3 separate regions of the Homo sapiens genome follow, and all the other regions are linked to region 3. The links come from fine-mapping of genetic effects on gene expression. A gene starts in region 3. Each other region holds a variant in brackets. All regions are shown on one strand. Distances are between the middles of the regions.

Region 1 (8,163 bases), 750 kb after region 3:
GCCTGGCAGTAATATGATTCATGGTACACTTCAGGAAGCTGACTCTTTGGATAAACTGTATGCTCTTTGTGGTCAACATTGCCCAATACTAACTGTTATTATCCAACCCATGAATGAGGAAGACCGAGGATTTGCATATCGCAAAGAATCTGATATTGAAAATTTCTTGGGTTTTTATTTATGGATGAAAATACACCCATATTTACTTCAGACAGACAAAAATGTGTTCAGGGAAGAGAACAATAAAGCAAGTATGAGACAAAATCTTATTGATAATGCCATTGGTGATATATTTGATCAGTTTTATTTCAGTAACACATTTGACTTGATGGGTAAAAGAAGAAAACAAAAAAGAATTAACTTCTTGGGGTTAGAGGAAGAAGGTAATTTAAAGAAATTTCAACCAGATTTGAAGGAAAGGTTTTGTATGAATTTCTTGCACACATCATTGTTAGTTGTGGGTAATGTGGATTCAAATACACAAGACCTCAGCGGTCAGACAAATGAAATCTTTAAAGCAGTCGATGAGAATAACAACTTATTAAATAACAGATTCCAGGGCTCAAGAACAAATCTCAACCAAGTAGTAAGAGAAAATATCAACTGTCATTACTTCTTTGAAATGCTTGGTCAAGCTTGCCTCTTAGATATTTGCCAAGTTGAGACCTCCTTAAATATTAGCAACAGAAATATTTTAGAACTTTGTATGTTTGAGGGTGAAAATCTTTTCATTTGGGAAGAGGAAGACATATTAAATTTAACTGATCTTGAAAGCAGTAGAGAACAAGAAGATTTATAATTTCAATATCAGCACACTCATTCTTTGTCAATTCATTTTTTCCCATGAGATGAAGCACATGTGACGAATACGGACTAGATAACCTCTAAGAATTTTCCACTTCTTCAAAATGAACTTACTCTAGAAAGCTTACCCTTGGATAACCAGTTTGACTTTCATAATGTCTCTGTTTTTTGTTTTTCCAACAATTACAGACTCAGGTTCTCTTATTTTGGAAGTTTCTATCTGGTTTTGTTCTGAACTTACATTTTTTTTTTTTTTGGTATCTATGATTTTTTTTGCTCAGGGCATCAAAATGTGCTAAGGACAAGAATTATATCCTTTTTAAAAAATGTTGTTAGCTTGGTGTAAAATGTATATTGACTGTATTGGTGAATAAATTGAATAGACATAACCTCAAAGTACTTCACTTATTCTTTTTAACTACTGATTTGATAAAAAGTATGATTATAAGATATCCACGACAATCTCATAGTTTCTTGTGCCAAATATGTTGAGTCCAGTTCCTCAGAATATCCAGTGAAATTGCAAGCATTTCCATGGGACAGGATTTAGTGTTTTTCTAATAGACTAGACTATCAAGTATCAATTGGTTTGAATAATTGTGGTGTATTTCCCAGGAGTTAACCAGGAAAGCTTTTAAGAGTCCTTCCACTGCATGACTATATGATGATATAGAAACAAGTCTTAGGAAACTTGGAAATCTATGCCTCTTGTCTACAACTAACTCAAATTAGAATGATCAGTATTTTTGGAGCCACACATGGAGATGCTAAAATAACATAAATTTGGCATTGAGGAACAAAAGGTAATTAAATTAATTACATCAAGAATAATGTTGGTGTCAGTTCAGCATGAGTCATAAATTCATAAAAATTATGAATTGCTACTTCATCAGCTGGAGACTACTTCTATGTAGAGTATGCTTTTTAAAAAAACATTAAGTGATGCTTTCTTTTAGTGAAAATATGGAAGCTATAATGTTATGTAAGTTTCTGTAGTAAGCAATGAGAAATTGTAGTGAATGAAAGGGCACAAAGTTTTGGAGAAAAAATAGAAAGGAGAAAATAATTTACATTAATTTTGTGCCTACTGTGTACCAGGGACTGTGGTACACCTGCAGGCTTTTTGTGTGTAATTCTTCCTCATAAAAGCACTGTGAATGTGGCTTTATTACTTCCCCTGCATTTTTTTTTTTTTTAAGTAGAGAAGTTAGGAGCAAAAGGTAAAGGACTTTCATGACTGGTTTACAGTAGGGTATCATGCCAGGATTTGAACCCAGTTCTTTGTGCTTGAAAATCAATGCTCTTTTTACTACTTTTTTTTTTTTAAAGCTGATTCTCAGTATGTTTCACAGGCTGGTTTTGAACTCCTGGGCTCAAATGATCCTCCATCCTCAGCTTCTCAAGTAGGTGGGACTGCAGGCACACGCCACTGCGCTGGGCATCCTACATTTTTATCATTGTTTTCATGTGAGGAAGAAGGGATAAGATTTTTTTTTTTTTGAGACAGAGTTTCGCTCTTGTTGCCCAGGCTGGAGTGCAATGGTGCGATCTCGGCTCACCGCAACCCCTGCCTCCTGGGTTCAGGTGATTCTCCTGCCTCAGCCTCCCAAGTAGCTGGGATTACAGGCATGCACCACCACACCTGGCTAATTTTTGTATTTTTAGTAGAGACGGGGTTTCTCCATGTTGGTTAGGCTGTTCTTGAACTTCCGACCTCAGGTGATCCGCCCGCCTCGGCCTCCCAAAGTGCTGGGATTACAGGTGTGAGCCACCGCGCCCAGCCAGGGATAAGATATTTAAAAAAAAATTACCACTCATTCTCTAGTGCAGGGAGACAAGGAAAGAATTTTTCTTTTTAATTTGGAAGGTGTGAAATATAGATATACCCAAGAAGATTGAGGAAATCATTTATAAAAACCAGGAGGTTTCAAGAAATATGGCATGCAGTATGTAGTTTTTGGCAATACTATTACACCAAACAGTGTCCTTCATGCATCATAATTGGGAGAAGCTGGAGTGACAACCATGAATTAGTAATGCATGGGACTGTGTAACATACTTCTTCTTTAAACATACTTCTTTAAAGTGAACGTGTTCACATGCATTGAATTCTGAGATCTTGGGCCACATCTTATTCACAGAGCTAGCTTCGTACTTGGTACATGGTAAGTACCTAATAAATGTGTGTTAAATGGATAAGAAGTGCATTTGAAGGCATTTAATTTTTCTTTACCTCTTACTAATTTCAGATCCATACATGTAGAAGGATGTGCAAATATGCTGAAGGATAGAACTCAGTTTTTTGTATTTTTTTTAGTTTTTTTATATTTTACGAAAGCA[G/A]TATTTTAGTTATCCTTAAAATGTCTGTAAAGATGATTTTTTCTTTTAAGCATTCAAAGCATGTTTTTAGTTTTGCAAGATTTATATTTAAAAAATCTTGTCACACTGTGAAATTTAGAAGAGTAAGTGAAACTTTAGAGGAAATTTAAGGATATTATAGAGAGCTAGCTTTTGCTTTAGAGATGAAGTACCTGAAGGGCTGAGTATGGAAGTGTAGCCTCCCTTACTCAGGGGAAGATATGTAGAATTCAGTCTCTGGTCCCAAGGTGGAGTGGTGAAATTATTGTGTTTTGCCCACCAGATGGCAGCTGTGCTATGCGCTGCCAAAAGTTCAGGCACTCTGAGAGGCTTGCATGGATAAAGGCAATGCTTTAAGCATTGGGGCAGTCTCTGAGCTTCCTGCTTCTGCTTCAAAGAAAGCTGAATGCCCAACTGTGCAGGCATCCCCCAAATATTAAACCCGGAAGAAGCAGCAGTGTTCAGAATTAAAATAAATATACTATTAGTATATTTAGTAGCAAGGAGCAGAAGTTCAAAAGTAGAGGCACTCAAAAATGCCAGCTGTCAAGAATCATCAGAGTTGATTCCAAGGAAAGCCCAATTTGGGGACTATGGGACCCAACAAAATTCCCTAATTCAAGCTGAAACTAAGTTAATGAGCTATTGGTTCAGTGGATAGGGGTAATTTTTACATGACACTTTCAAATATTATAATGTAACTTTTCAGTGGCACAAAACATGCCTCATTTTTCAGAGTGTAAACTGAGGTATTGAAACTACATTCCATATTTGTGGCACTCATTAAAGTTCTTATGAAGAGCTACCTTATAAGGTGGTTGTGAGAGGATCACTAGAGAAAATACTTGTAAAACTCTTAGCACAGAGTTTGGCACACAGTGTTAAACATGTTTTAGCTATTTTTCTTTAAAAAGCCATTAGTGTGAATACGTTTGATACACTTTTCAAAGTTGGTGTTCTTCTGACCAAGATGTATTTTAGCTTTATTTTGTGCCTCTCTCTCTCTCTCTCTCTCTCTCTCTATATATATATATATATATATATGAAATGTAATATTTTCAACATTTAGTCATATAGCCCTTCACAAAAGTGAAGGTGACAAACAGTTTGAGCCCCTGCTCTGTGCCAAATATTGGGCTAAGTTCTTTATGTGTATTATCTTAGTCCTCACGAGAACCCTCTCGATGGGTAACAGTACCTTTAATGTAGCAGGAAGGGGACTAAAACTCACAGAGGCTAGTAAAGAAGCACTTTTACTTTAATATCTGTATTCGATTCTCATAAAAAGTCCTGAGTTTTGTGGTTTGATACTCTATGTACAGATCTACCCTGAAAACAAAATGACTTTCTATTCCCTGTTTATTGAGGTTAAGAAGGATTCCATTACTGCCCAGGGTTCTTTTAATCCAAAGTACTTACCATTTTTCCTACTATTCTACGCTCTTGTCCATTAAGGTATTAAAGGATAATTGTTTTTAAAAGCAAAATCATGAATTCCATATAGATATAACATGACCATGTGCCAAAGATTGTATTTAACTTACAAATTACATAGGGAATTATTAACATATACAATGGGCTGAAGGAAGAATTTAAAGTATCACTAAAAATAAGCAATAAGAAATGCTGAAATGAATTTGGGTCTGTCCAGGACAAAAATTACATTCCCTGGACACCACCAATTTATATTTCTATGGACAAGAATAGTTTGCATTATCTGTGTTTTTACAATTTGCAGGATTATCAGATAATTTAAAGATAATGAAAAAACAGAGATAACCCCAAGAGGGCTTGATAAGGCACTTAGTAATTTCTTTTTTGTCCATTTCAAGGTATTTCACAGTTTTTTTCCTAAAAGGGTTTATCTTCCAGTAACTTAAGTGCTAAGTTATTAAGGGACTATTCCCAAGTCATGGCAAAGAATGTATGACCAAAAAGCTTTTGAAAATTAAGCAACAAAACAGCAAACCTTCAAACAGAGACAAGTACTATGTTTGATGGTTTAGAGAAGATACGTTCATCTTGTTCTAGACAAAAATTAGTAAACAATTCCCATCATGGACTTTAGATGTAATATACAATGGGCTGGGCGCAGTGGCTCACACCTGTAATCCCAGCACTTTGGGAGGCCAAGGTGGGCGGATCACGAGGTCAAGAGATCGAGACCATCCTGGCGAACACGTTGAAACTCCATCTCTACTAAAAATACAAAAAAATTAGCCAGGTTTGGTGGTGGGCACCTGTAGTCCCAGCTACTCGGGAGGCTGAGGCAGGAGAATGGCATGAACCCAGGAGGCGGAGCTTGCAGTGAGCCGAGATGGTGCCACTGCACTCCAGCCTGGGCAACAGAGCGAGACTCCATCTCAAAAAAAAAAAAAAAGATGTAATATACAATGATTATTTTTTTATCAATGGGAATTCTTTCTAAAGGATATACACATGAGCCTTTTCTCTATGCATAGATATTTCATATATTAATGTTTACTTTTTGATTCATACACAGATTATCATAACAATCAGTAACAGCAAGAACAAAAAACAAAGGTCAATGGAGTAGAAATCATTTAGCTGCTTTTCATCTTGAGAATAGTTCTTTTCTTCTGTAACACTAATGTTGATAAATGGCTGCAGTCTACAGACTACTACTTACGTAAGACTGCTTAAAGCTCAGGTGAATCAATACAACCAAGTAAATTAAGATAGGATGGTAGGTTCATGGGAAAACATGACTTGTACATCACAGGAATTCATTATATTGAGAGTGAAAGTGGTTAGTGAGAAATGGGTGATACAAAGCTAAACACTATATTTATGTTCATATATATGAATATTCATATATATATTTATAAGTTTATTTAATGTAGTTGCTGCCTCAGCATCCATTTTTAGGATTGACATAATATTTGAAATTTAGTCCTACTTTGTCACCTTTGGCTTAGTTAAAAGCTTACTTTCCCGTGTAGTTGTTTGCCGTATGGCTTATTTGTTCCTCACTTCTTTGACCCAAAACCCAACACACCCCACAGCTATTGAACGTGATAAAATGTAACGGTCAACACCAGAGTCACATAAATAGGTTCACCCCTTCAGGAGGGAAGAGGGGAACTTATTTCTTTAAATTAGCCCATCTACAACCCCCACAAGAAAGCCTAAGGGATAATGTCCACAGAGCTTAATAAAGGCATACACAGTCCCAGAGATTTCCCCGTCCCTCTCTCCCAAAAGTTCTGTCTCACAACCTCCCTCCTTCCCTTTCTCCCTCTTCCTCTCCTCCCCACTGACCCCTTGCTGATTGAGCTCCCTGCTGCCTCTTTCTGTTGGCACCCCTAACCTTTCTGGGAACTGTGAATAATAAACACTTATGTTTTGCGCATTTCCATTTCACTTCATTGTGTCTCATTTGGCATAGATGCTCTTAACGTAGCCTTCTTTTTGGTCAGAGCTATCTTAGAGAGTGGCTGTCTTGACAGGAATAATCTGGATACAGGTCAGGCAAGACCCACAAGGGTGTCTGCCTGAAAAAACAGTTTGTTGTGAGAGGGACACCTAGTCATGGGTCAGACACTTAGGCAATAGGCATCCTTCAGGATAAAGAGGCATCCCATGGAAGGCGCACTGTCAACATCCACAACAAAATCCTTTGAATTTCTGGCAAGGGCAAGGCTGGAGCTTATGGCCACTCTCAAGAAAAACCTCAAGACCAAATTAGAAAGAAACCATCATAAAAATCACAACAGTTGGCTGTGCATGGTGGCTCACGCCTGTAATCCCAGCACTTTGGGAGGCCAAGGCAGGTGGATCACCTGAGGTCAGGAGTTCAAGACCAGCCTGGCCAACATGGTGAAACCCGTTCTTTACTAAAAATATAAAAATTAGCTGGGCCTGGTCGTGGGCGCCTGTAATCCTAGCTACTCGGGAGGCTGAGGCAGGAGAGTCTCTTGAACCCGGTAGGTGGAGGTAGCAGTGAGCTGAGATTACGCCACTGTACCCCAGCCTGGGCGGCAAGAGCAAAACTCCCTCTCAAAAAACAAAAACAAAAAACACACTTGCATACATATGTATCCCATTTATTCTCATGGATGTGGTATAGAGAATCCAAAAGAATAATTTCATGTCATTTAAATGACATTGGAGTTTGTTTTAGACATATATTTCAATATAGGTCTGTTAGTGGAAATTCTCAGTCAAAAAGACATTATATGAAGAATAACTAGGACCAAGAGAAAGTTCTCTAGATTTGTTATTTTATGCCTTTGCTTACTTTCTCCCTGTTCACCTATTAGTTTGCACCAGTCTGCACAATGGGCTCTGTCCTGTCACCCTTCCAGGAGGCATGGTGTAGCATAGCATTATGGAGATTGTCTGGTGCTCTTCCTTCAGCAGGTTGATGTTGAGGTTAGCCTTGTATGCCCTGTTCGGTATCCTGCTAGGAACTTGTGGACCTCATCTGGATCAACAGATAGAGTCTCATGAAATATCTGGTTGTCATGAAATGTCAAAGTATGTAGAGTGCTATGTAATAGCTCGATAGGACTGATTGAACTCCTGGGTGGTCCTGAGTGGGTTAGGAAAGGGGTCCACAGTGAGTGCCTAGCTGGACAAGTCTCTGCATACAGCTGACCACCTAGGCATTAAGAGCCAGAACCACACAGTAGACCTGCACTGGCAGGCTATCCAGCATAGAAGTTTTACTTTTTCAATGGTGAACTCTTCCATTTGCATTTTTATTTCTTATCAAAGTTATACATTTATAACTAGTTTTAATCAGAAGTGCATAGCTCAAAATAAAAAATAGACCACTTTCTGACCCTGTACATGCCTAATTCCCACTCCAGAGGCATCTTTCTTGAAAATATTTAGCTGTTTTTCTGCTGTTTATTTCTGTATTTAGAGACATACTGCTTTTTTTTTCAATTTTAGATTTTGTGTATTGACATTTCACCTTCAGCCTCCCACTTCATATCTCTGCCAATATAATTTTTTTTATTAAATTACAGGGCT
Region 2 (8,188 bases), 64 kb after region 3:
CAATAAATCTAGAAAACCTTACCAACACGTGATAAAAGTGACATCAGCAAAGGAGAAAATGAACTATTCAGTAAATAGCAGGATACTTGGTATTTGGGTACCAACTCATCCCCACTGATAGGACTTTCTCAGTTTTAGCACTGAAAGGTCCCATAGCCCAGAAAACCTGAAAACCCTAGGCAAACCAGGAAAATTGGTCATCCTGCTTGGTATCCAAATATATAAAAATGTATTTATATTCCTACATAGCACCATATACAAAAATCAATTCCCACCTTAAAAAAAAGATCAGCTGGGTGCGGTGGCTCACGCCTGTAATCCCAGCACTTTGGGAGGCCGAGGCCGGCAGATCACATGAGGTCGGGAGTTCGAGACCAGCCCTACCAACATGGAGAAAACTCGTTTCTACTAAAAATACAAAATTAGTCAGGCATGGGGGCACATGCCCATAATCCCAGCTACTCAGGAGGCTGAGGCAGGAGAATCGCTTGAACCTGGGAGGCAGAGGTTTCGGTGAGCCGAGATTGCACCATTGCACTTCAGCCTGGGCAACAAGAGCAAAACTCCATCTCAAAAAAATAAATAAATAAAAAATAAAACACAAAAATTAGCCAGGCATGGTGGCGCACACCTGTAGTCCCAGCTACTCAGGAGGCTGAGGTGGGAGGATCGCTTGAGCCCAGGGAGGTTGAGGCTGCAGTGAATGATGATTGTGCCATTGCACTCCAGTGTGTGTAACAGAGTGAGACTCTGTCTGAAAAACAAAAACAAAAAAAAAAGAAAAGAAAAACCTATACCCTGGAAAAACTTCTCACACCCCTGCAAAAAAAGGAGACATGTATGAGAAGATTCACTACAGCATTCATCTGAGTGAGAAAAATTTAAAATGGTTCTAAAGGGTATAGACAGGAGAATGGATGAATATATTGTGGTATAGTTATACAATCCACTACCATACAGCACTTAAATTCATATACTAGAAAAACAAAACTAAACAAATAAATAAGTTAGGCGTGGTGGCTTATGCCTGTAATCCCAGCACTTTGGGAGGCCAAGGCAGAAGGATTGTTTGAGCCCAGGAGTTCGAGACCAGCTGGGGCAACACAGCGAGACCATGTCTCCACTAAAAAAAAAAAAAAAAAAAGTTAGCCCGGCATGGTGGCATGTGCCTGTAGTCCCAGCTACTCTAGAAGCTGAGGTGGAAGGATCACTTGAACCCAGGAGTTCAAGGCTGCAGTGAGCTATGATCATGCTACTGCACTCCAGCCTGGGCAACAGAGTGAGACCTTGTCTCAGAAATAAATAAATTCATATGCTAGAGGGAAAAAAAATTATAAAGCAATACATGTTACATAATTACATTTATACTATGTTTAAAAATATGTTTATGAATATAATATAGTAGCATAATTATGAATTGGAATGGTAAACAGTAAGTTAAAAATGGTGGCTCTCTCTAGGGTAAAGAGAGGAAGAAATGAGATGGGGAAAAGTACACAGCAAACTTCAACTGTTTTAATAGTGAATTTCCTTGTTTTTTTTCACCACACTTTTGAGATTTATCCATATTAATATACATAGTCAAGTCAATTTTCAAGAAAAGTAAATGGCAATTTCTTTTCTAAGTACTTGTGAATCTTTCTCAACATTTTGCTGTAAGGCCTTCTGGTATTTAGTGTTATAAGGGAAGGCATGCTGATTCTTGTTCAGTTGAATATAAAGTTTTTTTCCTTTCTAGTAAGTTTTCTCTTTATCACTCAAAATTTTACCAAAATATATCTGGCCATGGGTCTTCTTTTACTGAAACTTCCTAAAACACAGCGAGCAACTATCTTGGCTACTATAGACATCTTCTAGGTCTGCTGTAACAATAACAGTGGACCGAGGTAAAGAAAACTTCACAAAAAAAAATTCTTCTCTTTTTCAAAACCACATTGTCTCTTTAAAACATTCTTACTTGAAATGAGGGAAAAAGTATATCAAAGCTGAAATAAGTTTGCATTATTTAGTTTGCAGTACAGCTTCTGGTTCTCTGAGGAACTCCTGTCAAATTCATCTCTTTTTTCCTCTGCTTTTTCATACCCACTGAGCAGTAATGTGTTTTGCTTACAAAAGAAGCCTCGGAAGTCATGCAGAGAGCGTACCACTCAGATGCCTCTCAAGTTTTTTTTGGTTGGATTTTTTTTTAAAGAAGCCATTATTTACTGAAACTATTTAGCCCTGACATCATGAAAGAAAGAAGTCAAAAGGGTTCCTGCATTTCTAATGATTTTGCCTTTAAAGAAAAATAGAGCTACACACACACACACACACACACACACACTGAAAATTTATAAAACAGTTGTGCTAAAAACAGGCTGAAAAACTTTTATAAAATAGTGTTAAGAAAAGATATAATAAAGAATATAGAAAATACAGTAGCAACAAGATAAAGAAAACCCAAATTGTCAGTGATAAAATCCATTTTCATGTTGATGGGATGCTGAAAGCATTCCTGCAAAAATCATGAATAAGGCAAAATGTCCACAATCTCTACTACTATTTAACAATGTATTTGGCCAGGCGCGATGGCTCACGCCTGTAATCCCAACACTTTGGGAGGCCGAGGCGGGCAGATCACAAGGTCAGCAATTCAAGACCAGCAGGACCAACATAGTGAAACCCCGTCTCTACTAAAAATACAAAAATTAGCTGGGTGTGGTGGTGCGCGCCTGTAGTCCCAGCTACTCAGGAGGCTGAGGGAGGAGAATCACTTAAACCCGGGAGGCGGAGGTTGTAGGGAGCTGAGATCACGCCATTGCACTCCAGCCTGGGAGACAGAGCAAGACCCCGTCTCAAAAAAAAAAAAAAAGTATTTTAGGTGTTAGCTAATTAGACAAGAAAATTAGAGGCCTGAGAATTGGAAATAGGTAAAATTCTTCCTATTTGCAGATGAAACCCGAAGAGAATTATAGCTATAACTGATACAAATACAGAAGAATTCAGAAATAAGAAGGATATAAAATTATCATTAAAATAATACTCTGTAGGCTTCAGGTCTTAAAATGAAGAACACTTCCATTTCAATAATAAAATGCAAATAAATCAATTTAGAAATGGTCAAAACATCTGAACACACATCTCTCCAAAGATGTACAAATAGCTAGTAAATGCATGAAAAGATGTTCCACATCAGTAGTCATTAGCAAGATGCAAATCAAAACCACAATGAAATACCACTTCTCACCCACTTATGAAGCTAGAATAAAAAAGACAACAGTAACTGTTGGCAAGGACATGGAGAAATTGGATCCCTCAAATATTACCATGTGAAATGGTGCAATTGCCTTGTAAAACAGTTTGGGAGTTCCTCAAAATGTTAAAACTCAAGTTACCATATGACTCAGCAGTTCTACTCCGAGGTTTCTACTTGAGAGAAACACAAATATATGTTCGCAC[G/A]TACTTGCACAGGAATGTGCATAGCAGCATGATTCATGCAGCCAAAATGTGGAAACAACCCGAATGTCTATCTGCTGATGAATGGACAAACGAAATGTGATGTGTCTATCCAAACAATGAGATATTATTCAACTGGAAAAAGAAATGAAGTGCCGATACATGCTACGGCATGGGCTAAGTGCAAAAACATTACGCCAAGTGAAAGGAGACAGCCAGCAAAGATCACATACGGTATGCTCCACAACAGGCAAATCTATAGAGACAGGAAGCGGATTCGTGCTTGCCTAGGGCCGGTAGAGTGGGGAGATACAGGTGATAAGCAGTGACTGCTTACTGGTGGGGTTTCTTTTGGGGGTGATGACAATGTTCTGGAATTAGATAGTAGGGATGGTTGCACAACTTTGTGAGTATACTAAAAACCACTGAATTGTACACTTTAAACAGATAAACTTGACGGCATATGAATGATAGCTCAATAAAGTGATTAAGAAAGTGGCCGGGCACGGTGGCTCATGCCTGTAATCCCAGCACTTTGGGAGGTCCAGGTGGGTGGATCACTTGAGGTTAGGAGTTTGAAACCAGCCTGGCCAACATGGTGAAACCAAATACAAAAAGTAGCCGGGCGTGTTGGCACATGCCTGTAGTCCCAGCTACTCAGGAGACTGAGGCACAAGAATCGCTTGGTTGCAGTGAGCTGAGATTGCGCCACAGCACTGCAGCCTGGGCAGCAGAGCAAGACTTGGTCTCCAAAAAAAAAAAAATAGCATTCATATTACAACAATAACCAGTTACAAGATGAGATAAAAGTACAAATTCCATTTACGATAACAACAAAAATACTTGGAATAAGTTTACAGACAAATGTACAGAATGTGTATAAGAAAACAAACTCTTTAGAGAAATACAATAGATTTTGATTATGCACTTTATTTTTCTCTACTACTTTTGTATATTTGCCTATAAATATATGAAGCCTCCATTTTGACTGGAAACAAAGCCTAGAGGATGTATACTTTTTAAGATGCAGAAAATGAAATGAAACCCCAATACATTCCTGACAGTCTTACTTTTTTACTATTTTCATTTTTTTAATTTTTGTATTAAATAGAGACAGGGTCTCGCTATGATGCCCAGGCTGGTCTTAAACTCCTGGCCTCAAGTGATCCTCCTGCCTTGGCCTCCCAAAGTGCTGGGGTTACAGGCATGAGCCACCGCGCCGAACCCTTTTTTACTATTTTCTAATGAATGTTTTTATTTAAAAAATCATTATTCTAAGTATAATTGAACACAATAATTTCTAACTCTTTCTCAATAGTAGAAACCACAACGTTTATTTATATTTCTAGTACCTTATTGTCACACTTTTGGTTTGCTTGGGAAAACTAACTGGGGTCATTTTTTTTTCCAAGTAGAGGAAGAAATTCTATTAATACTTGGGGATCTGAAGTTCTCTTTAAAGTATTTGTAAAAAATCTTTTCTTGGCAGGGACTGAGCTGTCAACATGTGAATGTCTTTTTTTTGCAGTCTCACTGTTAGAAACCAGGAAGATCAGAGGCCCACAATAGCTTCCCACGAACTCAGAGCAGATCTTCCAACCTGGGAAGAAAGGTGAAATCACACGTTTTTTTTACCTCACTAAACTAACAGAAATACTAACCTCTTTCTTTTCTTTGCCTTGTATGTTTCAACAGAACACATACTTTCTCTAACTGTAATTTAGTAATATCCAATCATTATGTGGCCTCGCATTCCTCCCCTGCAGAATTCCATTTAATTCATCGTGTGACAGGGAGAGAAATCAGTTCCATTATTAGTCTAATCCCTTTGCTAATTGCAAATACAAATAGATTCTTCCTAACAAAACATATTATGTTATTTTATTTTTATATAATATACTTTTAAAAATAAAAGTATATCATATAATTTTATATAAGATATAGCATATATATTTATATATACTATATATAAAATACAGCATATATACTTATATATGCTATATATATGATATAGTATATATATTTATACACTCTATATAAGATATAGCATATTTATACACGCTATATAAGATATAGCATATTTATTTATACATGCTATATAAGATATAGCATATTTATTTATACATGCTATATAAGATATAGCATATATATTTATACATGCTATATAAGATATAGTATATATATTATATATGCTATATATAAGATAGTATATATATTATATATGCTATATATAAGATATAGTATATTTATATATGCTATATATAAGATATAGTACATTTATATATGCTATATATGATATAGTATATACATTTATATATGCTATATATAAGATATAGTATATACATTTATATATGCTATATAGGATATAGTATATACATTTATATATGCTATATAGGATATAGTATATACATTTATATATGCTATATAGGATATAGTATATACATTTATATATGCTATATATAGGATATAGTACATACATTTATATATGCTATATATAGGATATAGTACATACATTTATATATGCTATATATAGGATATAGTACATACATTTATATATGCTATATATAGGATATAGTACATACATTTATATATGCTATATATAGGATATAGTACATACATTTATATATGCTATATATAGGATATAGTATATACATTTATATATGCTATATATAGGATATAGTATATACATTTATATATGCTATATATAGGATATAGTATATACATTTATATATGCTATATATAAGATGTAGTATATATATGCTATATATATGATATAGTATATATATTTACATATGCTATATATATAAGATATAGTATATATATTTACATATGCTATATATAAGATAGTATATATATTTATATATGCTATATATATGATAGTATATATACTATATATAAGTATATATGCTATATGTAGGATATAGTATATATATTTATATATGCTATATATAAGATGTAGTATATATATGCTATATATAAGATGTAGTATATATATGCTATATATATGATATAGTATATATATTTATATATGCTATATATATGATATAGTATATATATTTACATATGCTATATATAAGATAGTATATATATTTATATATGCTATATATATGATAGTATATATACTATATGTAAGTTATAGTATATATATTTATATATACGATATATGATACAGTATATATACATATGCTATATATAAGACAGTATATATTTATATATGCTATATATAAGACACAGTATATATTTATATATGCTATATATAAGATACAGTATATATTTACATATGCTATATATAAGATACAGTATATATTTACATATGCTATATATGATACAGTATATATTTACATATGCTATATATGATACAGTATATATTTACATATGCTATATATGATACAGTATATATTTACATATGCTATATATGATACAGTACATATTTACATATGCTATATATGATACAGTACATATTTACATATGCTATATATGATACAGTACATATTTACATATGCTATATATAAGATACAGTACATATTTACATATGCTATATAAGATACAGTACATATTTACATATGCTATATAAGATACAGTACATATTTACATATGCTATATAAGATACAGTACATATTTACATATGCTATATAAGATACAGTACATATTTACATATGCTATATAAGATACAGTACATATTTACATATGCTATATAAGATACAGTACATATTTACATATGCTATATAAGATACAGTACATATTTACATATGCTATATAAGATACAGTACATATTTACATATGCTATATAAGATACAGTACATATTTACATATGCTATATAAGATACAGTACATATTTACATATGCTATATAAGATACAGTATATATTTATATATGCTATATAAGATACAGTATATATTTATATATGCTATATAAGATACAGTATATATTTATATATGCTATATAAGATACAGTATATATTTATATATGCTATATAAGATACAGTATATATTTATATATGCTATATAAGATACAGTATATATTTATATATGCTATATAAGATACAGTATATATTTATATATGCTATATAAGATACAGTATATATTTATATATACTATATATAAGATACAGTATATATTTATATATACTATATATAAGATACAGTATATATTTATATATACTATATATAAGATACAGTATATATATTTATTGGTCATTTACAAAAACTTGGATTTAAACATTTGAAAATATATATCCTTCTCAAGCAAACATGAAACAGTTATATTTTAAAAATAAAAGTATATTATATAATATACGGTGGGTGGGCACGGTGGCTCACACCTGTAATCCCAGCACTTTGGAAGGTCAAAGCATGCGGATCACCTGAGGTCAGGAGTTTGAGACCAGCCTGGCTGACATGGTGAAACCCCTTTTCTATTAAAATACAAAAATTAGCGGGGCGTGGTGGCAAACGCCTGTAATCCCAGCTGTTTGGAAGGTTGAGGCAGGGAGAATTGCTTGAACACTGGAGGCAGAGGTTGCAGTGAGCCAAGATTGCACCACTGCACCCCAGCCTAGGAGACAGAGCAAGACTCTGCCTCAATCAATCAATCAATCAATAAAGGGAGAGGGAGAAAGAAAAAGCTATAGATGCTTGCCAAAAATTTAATGGTATATAAGTAAAGAAAGTGGTCTAACCTCTAAGAGAGTAAACACTGTTAACACATTTCTTTTTTTTTTTTGAGATGGAGTCTAGCTCTGTCACCCAGGCTGG
Region 3 (8,188 bases):
AGTCGCCCACTTTCCCCCTCGAGGGAGCTGTTGGCGCTTCTCCAGAAGCCTCCTCGGCTCCCAGCTCCAGCCCCTAAAATAAAAGCACCTTGCCAGAGAGCGGGGGAGGGGAGCAGCTGAACGAGGAGAATGAAAATACTGGGAGAACGACCCCATTCTCCAGGAAAAGGTAATGAGGGGAAGTGAAACAGTGTGAACTTACTCGGAAATGCAAACCGAGTTCAACTCACCCAGGAGCAAACAAACGACAGCAAGACAAATCAGCCACCGCACTCGCGGCTTCCCAGAAAGGGCCTCATGAATGAGAATGGGTTGCTAGGTTTCCTTCCCTCTCTCCTGACAATCGCTTCCCACAAGACTTCCACCGCCGAAAGAATACAGGCCGGGCCTGGTGACTGCGGAGTGAGGGAACCGCGCCAGGCCCACGAGGCCGCTCGCGACCGCTCCCGCCTTCAGGACCCTGGAGAGCGGCCGCCGCGCCCCTGGGACCCACGCCCAACCCAGAACACCCGCGCTCGCCTCCCGCGCCTCACCACCCCAGCACTTTATTCGCTGCTTCCCGCCTCCACCTTCATTTTTTTTGGCAACCACCGCTCTTGTTTTTCACAGACAGATTAAATTGTTTTTTGTTTGGCATGAGGGGGTGTTTGGATTGGCCGAGCTACATTCCGGTTTGTAACTACACTAAACGTTAGTGTACCAAGAAACTAAGAGCGTCTCAAAGATGACAGTCTGAACGTGGCAGGTGACCTTAAAAAGCCACTGAGTTCAACCCCTTTATAAATGAACTCAAAAAATAAAGAGACATTCCCAAGGTTAGCCATTAAGTTAGTGGCAAGGTTGAGTGTAGAACCGTGGGTTTCTGACTTCTAAACTAGTGCTTCCCTCCACTTTCCAAAAGAAAAAAAATATCTCATTGCTTAGGTCTCCTAAGCAACAAGTGGAAGGTGGAAAGGCCGGTGTTCCCGGGAATAAGAAGGACACATGGAGTTTGGAAAGGAGGTCTGCAGAGGGTTCACTTGTAGTAGCAGCCCTAACATGGAATCCCGGTGTCCCCAGCTCCACGCAACATACCTACAGCCGCACTGGCCAGTCCCTTTTTCCAACCAGCCTGTGGAGGGTCTGAGGCCCTTCAGCCACCTTCAGCCACTATCTGGACCTTCCATAGACAACAATCCCAATAGAATCTAGTAGCCAAGGCCAACTCTGTGCCTCTGGCAGGCAGAGCCCTGGGCACTTAGGGAGATGGGAAAGGGCAGGGGGAACAAGGGAAGACCAGAGAAGGGAGGGGAAGAGCAACAGTTACAAAAGTGAACTAAGATTTTCATCCAAATTCTGAAGAACCAGGCGATGTGAACACAGACCCTTCTGCATACCGCATGTCACATTCAGCGCGCATGGTAGTCCCCTGGGAATGTTACCATGCAGATTCCGATGCATTGGCTGGGTGGGGCTCAAGAGTCTTTATTTCTAACAAGCTCCTAGGTGTTGGCGAAGCTGCTGGCCTACGGACCACACTTCAAGTAGCACGGAGTTAGGAAATACAGGAGTGGGAGGGGAAAGAATCTAACTATAGGCCTTTCCTTCTGCTTTCACCGACCTTCTCTTGCACCCCCAAAGTAACGCTTCAAAATTCTGTAGTAAAGAGCCCCATCTAAGCGGCCGGACACCACAGTAACCGTATGCTGGTTTTGTTTCTCTCTCCCCACCCCAGTCCTTCCCGCCTGCACAGCTCCCAGACTCGCCCGCCGCCCCGAAGCTGTTCGGCCTCCTTTCTAGCCCGCTTTCCAGCCTCGCAAGGTTCTTCTCTCACCTTCTCCGGCGACCCCCTCCCGAGGCTCCCCGGAGGCGCCTGGACTTCTCCCCCCTGCTTCCCGCCCTGCCGGCCGCCCGGCTCTCGAGGGGGCACGAGGAGCTGCCGGGCCGCCTCTCGCTCCTGCTCGGGGCGGCGCTGGCACTGCCCGGCCGACCCTCGGGGGGTCGTCCGCTGAGGCCCCCCCATCCGGTAGCCAAGCCCAGGGAAGAAGACGCCACCGCTGGGCAGAGCTCGCCTATGCCGGTGAGTACCGTGGTCTCCACTACGCCCCACACCCAGCCTCCCCAGGACACCAGCCTCTCCCGATTCTTCCTAACCCCAACTGACCCGCTCCGCTGGGGCTAGCAGTAGGGAGGGTGGCAAGGTCGGGAAGGCCGGGACGTGGCTGGGCAAGTCCTAGGACGGGACATTGGCGGCTCCCGGGACACCGCCCCTCCCCGCGGGAAGACACTCCAAGCTACTTTTTCCTGGGCCATTTCCTTTCCATGGTCCAAGAAAACGGGAGGGAGCCCTCGCTCTTCCCCGAGGCTGCCTTTCAAACTCTCAGCGTGTCGCTCTCCTCCGCCTACTCCGAGCCTCCCCCAAACGCGCCTCCGCCTGCTCCCAGCGCTCGCTCTCCCACTCCCCTGCCCTCTCGGCAGGCAAGGGAGGAAATGACGTGATGTTATTTTTGTGTCAGGTCAGTTTCCAGCTTCAGCTTAGCCCTCCGGGCTCCAGGGAACTAACCCCGCGGCCCCACCGGGTCCCACTCCCGAAGGGACGCTGCGGGCTACGGGGACACGCGGTGCTGCGAGTCCGGAGAGCTGGGCGGCTGGGTTCCCCCTCCCGCTGCCCCCTGGTCTACTCCTTTCCCCGGACTCCGGAGTCCCTGGAGAAGGGGACGCGGAGGGCGACTGCCGAGGGTCTCAGCGGGATCTGGAGTCAGGGGTTAGTTCCCCCCCTTATCCCCCGCTCGGTTGCTGGGTGGGGCCTCCGCGCTCTGGCTAGCTGGGAGGGGGCGAGGGCCGCTTTCCAGGGCGGGAAGACCGGAGGCCTAGGCTGCGCCGGGGTGGGGCGGGGACAGAGCTCAGAGAGGCGCCCCGGGCCGGGGAGAAGGTAGGGGGCTGCCCTCCAGAGACGCGCAGTCCACAGACGCGAAGCTCTGGGGACCAAGCGCCCCCTCCATGCCTGCCGCCCACCCCCGCTCCTTCCTCCCGCTCCCTTCATTCACGAGGTCCGAGCACGCAGTCCAGCACACTCTAGTCTCGCTCGGCCCCGCGCGCCGAGGGGAGGCGATGACACAGAGGGCTTCGCGGACGCCCTCTACGCGCGCCTGGCTTCGCATCCACACTCTTGGGACTTGCTAATGCGGGGCTGGAGCAGTGGGGCTGCGGCCGGGGTGGAGGTCGCGCCCCGCGTGGGGCCTCGGGGGTACCCCTAGCACCCGCGGCGGTGGAGTGCGCCGCCGCTGGAGGGAGGCGAGACGTGGGATTGCCCGGCCGGGTAAAAGGAGTGAGGGGGCGGGGAGGAGGCAGAGCAAGGGGAGGAAGAGGCCGGGAGAAGAGGGCTAGAGCAAAGACCGAGAGCCGGAGAAAGGCGAAAGGCGCGGTGAGCAATCGCCGACGTAGAGAGGGCAGCCCTCCGCGCTGCAATATTGAGAAGGCACCCGCGGGACGCATGCGCACGGCGGACGGAGGCGAGCCGGCCGGGGCTTCCTCCCCGGCCGGCAGGGTGGACGGTGGGCTCGTGAGTATCCCAGTTCCTCGAACTCTCTTTCTTCGTCTCGGGCTCGCCCTGAGGCTTCGTGCTGGAAAGTGGCCGAGGCTGGGAGGGGCGCGCCGCTCGTCCGGACCTCAGGGTGTCGCCGTTGCTGCGGGGCGGGAGCCGGTGCGAGTCGGGGGTTCCTTCCCGCAGTGCGAGTTTGGGGGAGTGGGGCTGCGAGTGCGTCCGCGTGCGAAGAGGGGCATCGCGCCACCAGGATCAATATGTCCCGGGCCTGCCAGGGCGTCCGCGATTCCACCTCTGCGGCTTCGCGTCGGTGTCTTGGTGGGGAACGCGGGAGTCTAGTCTTTAGACCCTAGAAATCGCATTGACCACCCGAAGCGTATTTCGGAAAGACCAGGCGGGTGGAAGCGTCGGCTTTCTCACGGGATAGGGAGAGGACAAGGAAGGGGTTGGGCGCCCGGGGCTGGTGGTTTGAGCGCCGCTGGGAAGGGTAAGGAGACAGAGCCTCCTGGAATCGTAGCGCCTCCTTTTAGGAGAAGTGCAACCAGGGCAGGGGCACCGAGGGGCAGGGTGAGGAAGTGGACGCCCCACGCGTGGACCCTAGAAGACCGACTAGGTATGGGCGTTCACTCGGAGCCTCTGTTCACGCTCTTGAAAACCGAATGAACAGAGAAGTGCCCTCCACCCTTCGCCTGCGCCAGGGCAGTTAACGTGCAGGCGCCGCCGGGATTTTCCTGGAACAAACCCGGGCACTTGATCTTCCGCACCCTCGGAGCTGCCCTGGGAAGTCGAAACAAGTCTGGGCGCCCGGACTGCGGAGACTGGAAAGCAGGGGGCGGAGGGCGGGAGACTGGGGGCGGGAAGTGGAGGTGCAGGCTGCAGCTGGGGACCGCGGTGGGCGTTGGAGGGGAGGGTCTGTGTGCGCGGCTGTCCTCCAGCGCTGGGGGAGCGGACGGGCCAGGGGCCTCTAGGGAAGCGGCGCTCCGGGACCGGGGTGGCTTTCCCGTCTCTGTGTGCGCGGCGATCCCCACACCCAGCTCGGGCGGAGGAGCCCTGAGAGAAGCGGCTAGCTGAGAGTGGGGTGGGCGTTTTGGGGAAAGGTTTGCGTGCGCTGCGGCCCTACCGCTGCTAGAGAAGTGGAAGAGAGAGAGTGGGCGCCGGGAGGGGGTCTATAGGCGCCGCGACCTACCCCATCTCCCTCCACGCTTGTGGGGGAGTGAGTGGGGAAGGGGCTTTGGGAGAGGCGGCGCGCGGGCACTGAGGTGCATCGTGAGCTTCCCGGACTTGACAGCATCAAAGGAAAATCCTGGCGAGCAGCCAGGGCCAGCGAGCGACCCCAGCAGCAGGGACGCGGCCGTGCGAGAGCTCGCGGACAGGCGAGGGGGATCCCAGGGGAGCAGCTGCTGCCCACGGGCCACGGGCGATGCACGGAGTGGAGAAGTGAACGTGGTCTACAGGATTTCTGTCCGGAAGGTGGAGAGCGCTACAGGGGAATCTCCTCGATTCCTGTCCGTCTCGTAACTTGGCAAAAGCTCGCGCCACTGCCCTCCGGCCTGGGCGACAGAGCAAGACTCCGTCTCAAAAAAAAAAAAAAAAAATGGCAAAAGCCTATCGCTCTTTGTCGAACTCCCCACGTTCCCCAGTCACCTGGCTGGGGTTCGTTGGTGTCAAAACCCCAGCCTTGGTGCCCTCGGTGCCAGCAGGACCCTCGCCCACTGGCTAGCGGAATTAGGCACCTGCACGCGGGCTCCTCATTGCCCCGGAGTGTGGGGAGGAAGGGGCTTCTGCATCAGTCTCCAGCCACCCTCCTTGGGACACAAGTGGCAGGGCCCTGGCGTGGCTTGGCTTCATTTCATCCCTAGTGGCTCCAAACCGTGGAATTGACTAAACAAATGTTCAAATTCGCAAAACGGTCTGACTTCCGCCCCAAACTTGACAAGGACATTTCTAGTGAAATTACTCTATCTGTAAGTTTTTTGGCACAACCATAGTTTGCAATTTACTATTTTTGTTAAAATATTTTTTCTCCAAACCTAATTTTTTTGGGGGTCTCATCCTGTTTATCTTCTGTTCGTTAAGTGACATCTTTCTTTCTTTTTTTTTTTTCTTTGAGACTGAGTTTCGCTCTTGTGGCCCAGGCTGGAGTGCAATGGCGCGATCTCGGCTCACTGCAACCTCCGCCTCCTGGGTTCAAGAGATTTTCCTGCCTCAGCCTCCCAAGTAGCTGGGGCTGGGATTACAGGCATGCGCCACCACTCCCGGCTAATTTTTTGTATTTTTAGTGGAGACGGGGTTTCTCCATGTTGGTCAGGCTGGTCTTGAACTCCCGGCCTCAGGTGATCCGCCTGCCTCCGCCTCCCAAAGTTCTGGGATTACAGGAGTGAGCCACTGCGCCTGGCCATAAGTGACATCTTTCTTATCACGTATTAGTAACGCATATGAGAGGCAGTGTTGCCAAACCAGTGGGAGTCTTGAGCTCTGTAACTGGGTTCAGATCCCAACCTAACTGCATAAACTTGGACTAGTTACTTATCCTCTCTGGGCGTTAGTTTCATCATCTGTGAAATGGGGGTAATAAGAGCACCTACCTCGGCAGCTCAGCAGAGCACGGTGGCTCACTCCTGTAATCTCAGCACTTTGGGAGGCCGAGGCAGGTGGATCACGTGAGGTCAGGAGTTCTAGGCCAGCCTGGCCAACATGGTGAAACCCCATCTCTACTAAAAATACAAAAAATTAGCCGGGTGTGGTTGCTGGCGCCTGTAATCCCAGTTACTCTGGGGGCTGAGGCAGGAGAATTGCTTGAACTCAGGAGGCAGAGGTTGCAGTGAGCCGAGATGGAGCCACTGCACTCCAGCCTGGGCAACAAGAGCAAAACTCCGTCTCAAAAAAAAAAAAAGAGTATCTACCTAATGTGCTAGCTGACAGCATTCAGTAAATTAATAACATAGAGCTCTTATAACGGGATGGCACATACCAAGCAAAAGCTGTTATTACTATTATTATATTGATGCTAAATTGGCTAGACTTCAAACTATAAATAAGATCAGTAACAGAATGCATATTTTTGTATACTATAAAGAGTATGCATAATGAAACACATGTCCATCATCCAAATTAGAAAAACAGTCTTTTTTTTTTTTTTTTTTTTTTGATGCTGGGTCTCACTCTCTCACCCAGGCTGGAGTGCAGTGGCACGACTGAGGCCCACTGCACCCTTGAACTCCCAGATTCAAAGGATCCTCCCACCTCAGCCTCAGGAGTAGCTGAGACTTAAGGTGCCTGCCACCGCACCTGGCTAATTTTTTAATTTTTTATAGAGACAGGATCTCGCTGTGTTGCCAGGGCTGATGAACAGCCAGTTTAAGAGAATCTGAAAATGTACCTTAGGAGCTTGAAGTGCTAACTTGTCTGAGATCACTGTAAACGTTTTAGCTGAAACACCCCTTATATCAAAAATACAGAATGATGAAAATCAGGTTACTTATTCTACCTCCTTCGTTTTACAGATGAGGAAACATTCAGAGAGGTTAAGGGTCTGGGCCAGAGATCTCCAGCTAATTAGGGGCCAAAATAGAATGAAGACTTCTGACTCATTCCCCAGGGCTCTTACACACCACACTGCTGATTTCCTGTTTACTACGGATTAATGAACTGTTAACAGATAGAAAGTATAAATAAGGAAAAAGTGTACGAGCATGTGCTATCTCTAGCACCAAGAAGGACCAGGCAGTCATGTCGTGGCTACTGTTGTCCCACAGCTTTATCTTGGTCCCTCACATTATAAGACATGACCACATGACTCGCCTCAGGTAAGGTAAGGTCACAGATCAAGCTATTGTCAGAGCCAGCATTAGCATTTTAGGCCCCACTTGGGTATACATTTGATTGCATATTCTATTAATCTCCTGTAGCAGTTTTAGAAATCATTTTTGAGCTTTTCTTGAATTCTTAAAATATCCTTCCAGCTGGCTTTGAAGGTCTTTCCTATAAGAAAGCCTTTTAGAAAACGCCTTCAAAATTACACAGAAGGAGATTTTATTATTCTAGATTTTATGGACTAGCGAGAGTAAAAGAGAAAAGCTTTCTTATTTTAATGCAGTAGCCTGTAACTGGTTTCATTCCAGGCATTAAGTATTAATTCCTGAAATCCTGCTGTTCTTTTATTTCCGCATGTGGGCATCTAACCACATTCACCTTCCATGGACAGATGCAGATAGTGGCTTAAAGGTCCAGCCCTCACATCCACAGTTTAAGAATTATACAGCAGAGGCCGGGCGCGGTGGCTCACGCCTGTAATCCCAGCACTTTGGGAGGCCGAGGCGGGTGGATCACGAGGTCAGGACATCGAGACCATCCTGGCTAATGCGGTGAAACCCCGTCTCTACTAAAAAATACAAAAAATTAGCTGGGCGTATTAGCGGGCGTCTGTAGTACCAGCTACTCGGGAGGCTGAAGCAGGAGAATGGCATGAACCTGGGAGGCGGGGCTTGCAGTGACCCGAGATTGCGCCACTGCACTCCAGTCTGGGCGACAGAGGGAGACTCCGTCTCAAAAAAAAAAATGAATTATACGGCAGAGACTTTCTAGTGAACATCTGGTCTTACAAAGTTATTTATAGGGATGGTGTGTCTTCCAGGGGAGGTACTTCTAGGAATTATGCCTGCATCC

Which allele goes with the higher level. Positions count from the first base shown, and alleles are read on the strand shown. Sizes are in standard deviations (SD) of each study's normalised expression.
For the expression in cerebellar hemisphere of the gene that starts at base 3,329 in region 3, allele A in region 1 goes with a lower level than allele G (moderate effect, 0.59 SD a copy in GTEx).
For the expression in fibroblasts of the gene that starts at base 3,329 in region 3, allele A in region 2 goes with a lower level than allele G (small effect, 0.31 SD a copy in GTEx).

Evidence for each region. PIP is the estimated chance that this variant, and not a neighbour inherited with it, causes the effect.
Region 1: its variant is fine-mapped to the expression of RGS20 in cerebellar hemisphere (GTEx, PIP 0.98).
Region 2: its variant is fine-mapped to the expression of RGS20 in fibroblasts (GTEx, PIP above 0.99).

What each region holds. Positions count from the first base shown.
Region 1 is chr8:54,629,555-54,637,717 of GRCh38, forward strand. It overlaps RP1 (RP1 axonemal microtubule associated), which reads left to right. Exons shown (of 4, transcript NM_006269.2): 4 at 1-1,280. The coding sequence ends at 799. Among named protein-coding and RNA genes, the nearest start is that of RP1, 18 kb to the left of the region's middle. RefSeq lists an enhancer at 1-404. The variant G/A (reference allele first, on the strand shown) is at 3,145.
Region 2 is chr8:53,941,702-53,949,889 of GRCh38, forward strand. RGS20 (regulator of G protein signaling 20) reads left to right here. Exons shown (of 5, transcript NM_003702.5): 3 at 4,964-5,047. Among named protein-coding and RNA genes, the nearest start is that of RGS20, 65 kb to the left of the region's middle. RefSeq lists enhancers at 2,708-3,907, 3,368-3,662, 3,493-3,542, 3,553-3,692 and a silencer at 3,368-3,662. The variant G/A (reference allele first, on the strand shown) is at 3,439.
Region 3 is chr8:53,877,544-53,885,731 of GRCh38, forward strand. RGS20 (regulator of G protein signaling 20) reads left to right here and starts at 3,329. Exons shown (of 5, transcript NM_003702.5): 1 at 3,329-3,541. The coding sequence starts at 3,473. RefSeq lists enhancers at 2,286-2,580, 3,228-3,859, 3,860-4,491, 4,769-4,838, 6,972-7,021 and silencers at 2,769-2,908, 2,989-3,038, 3,169-3,278.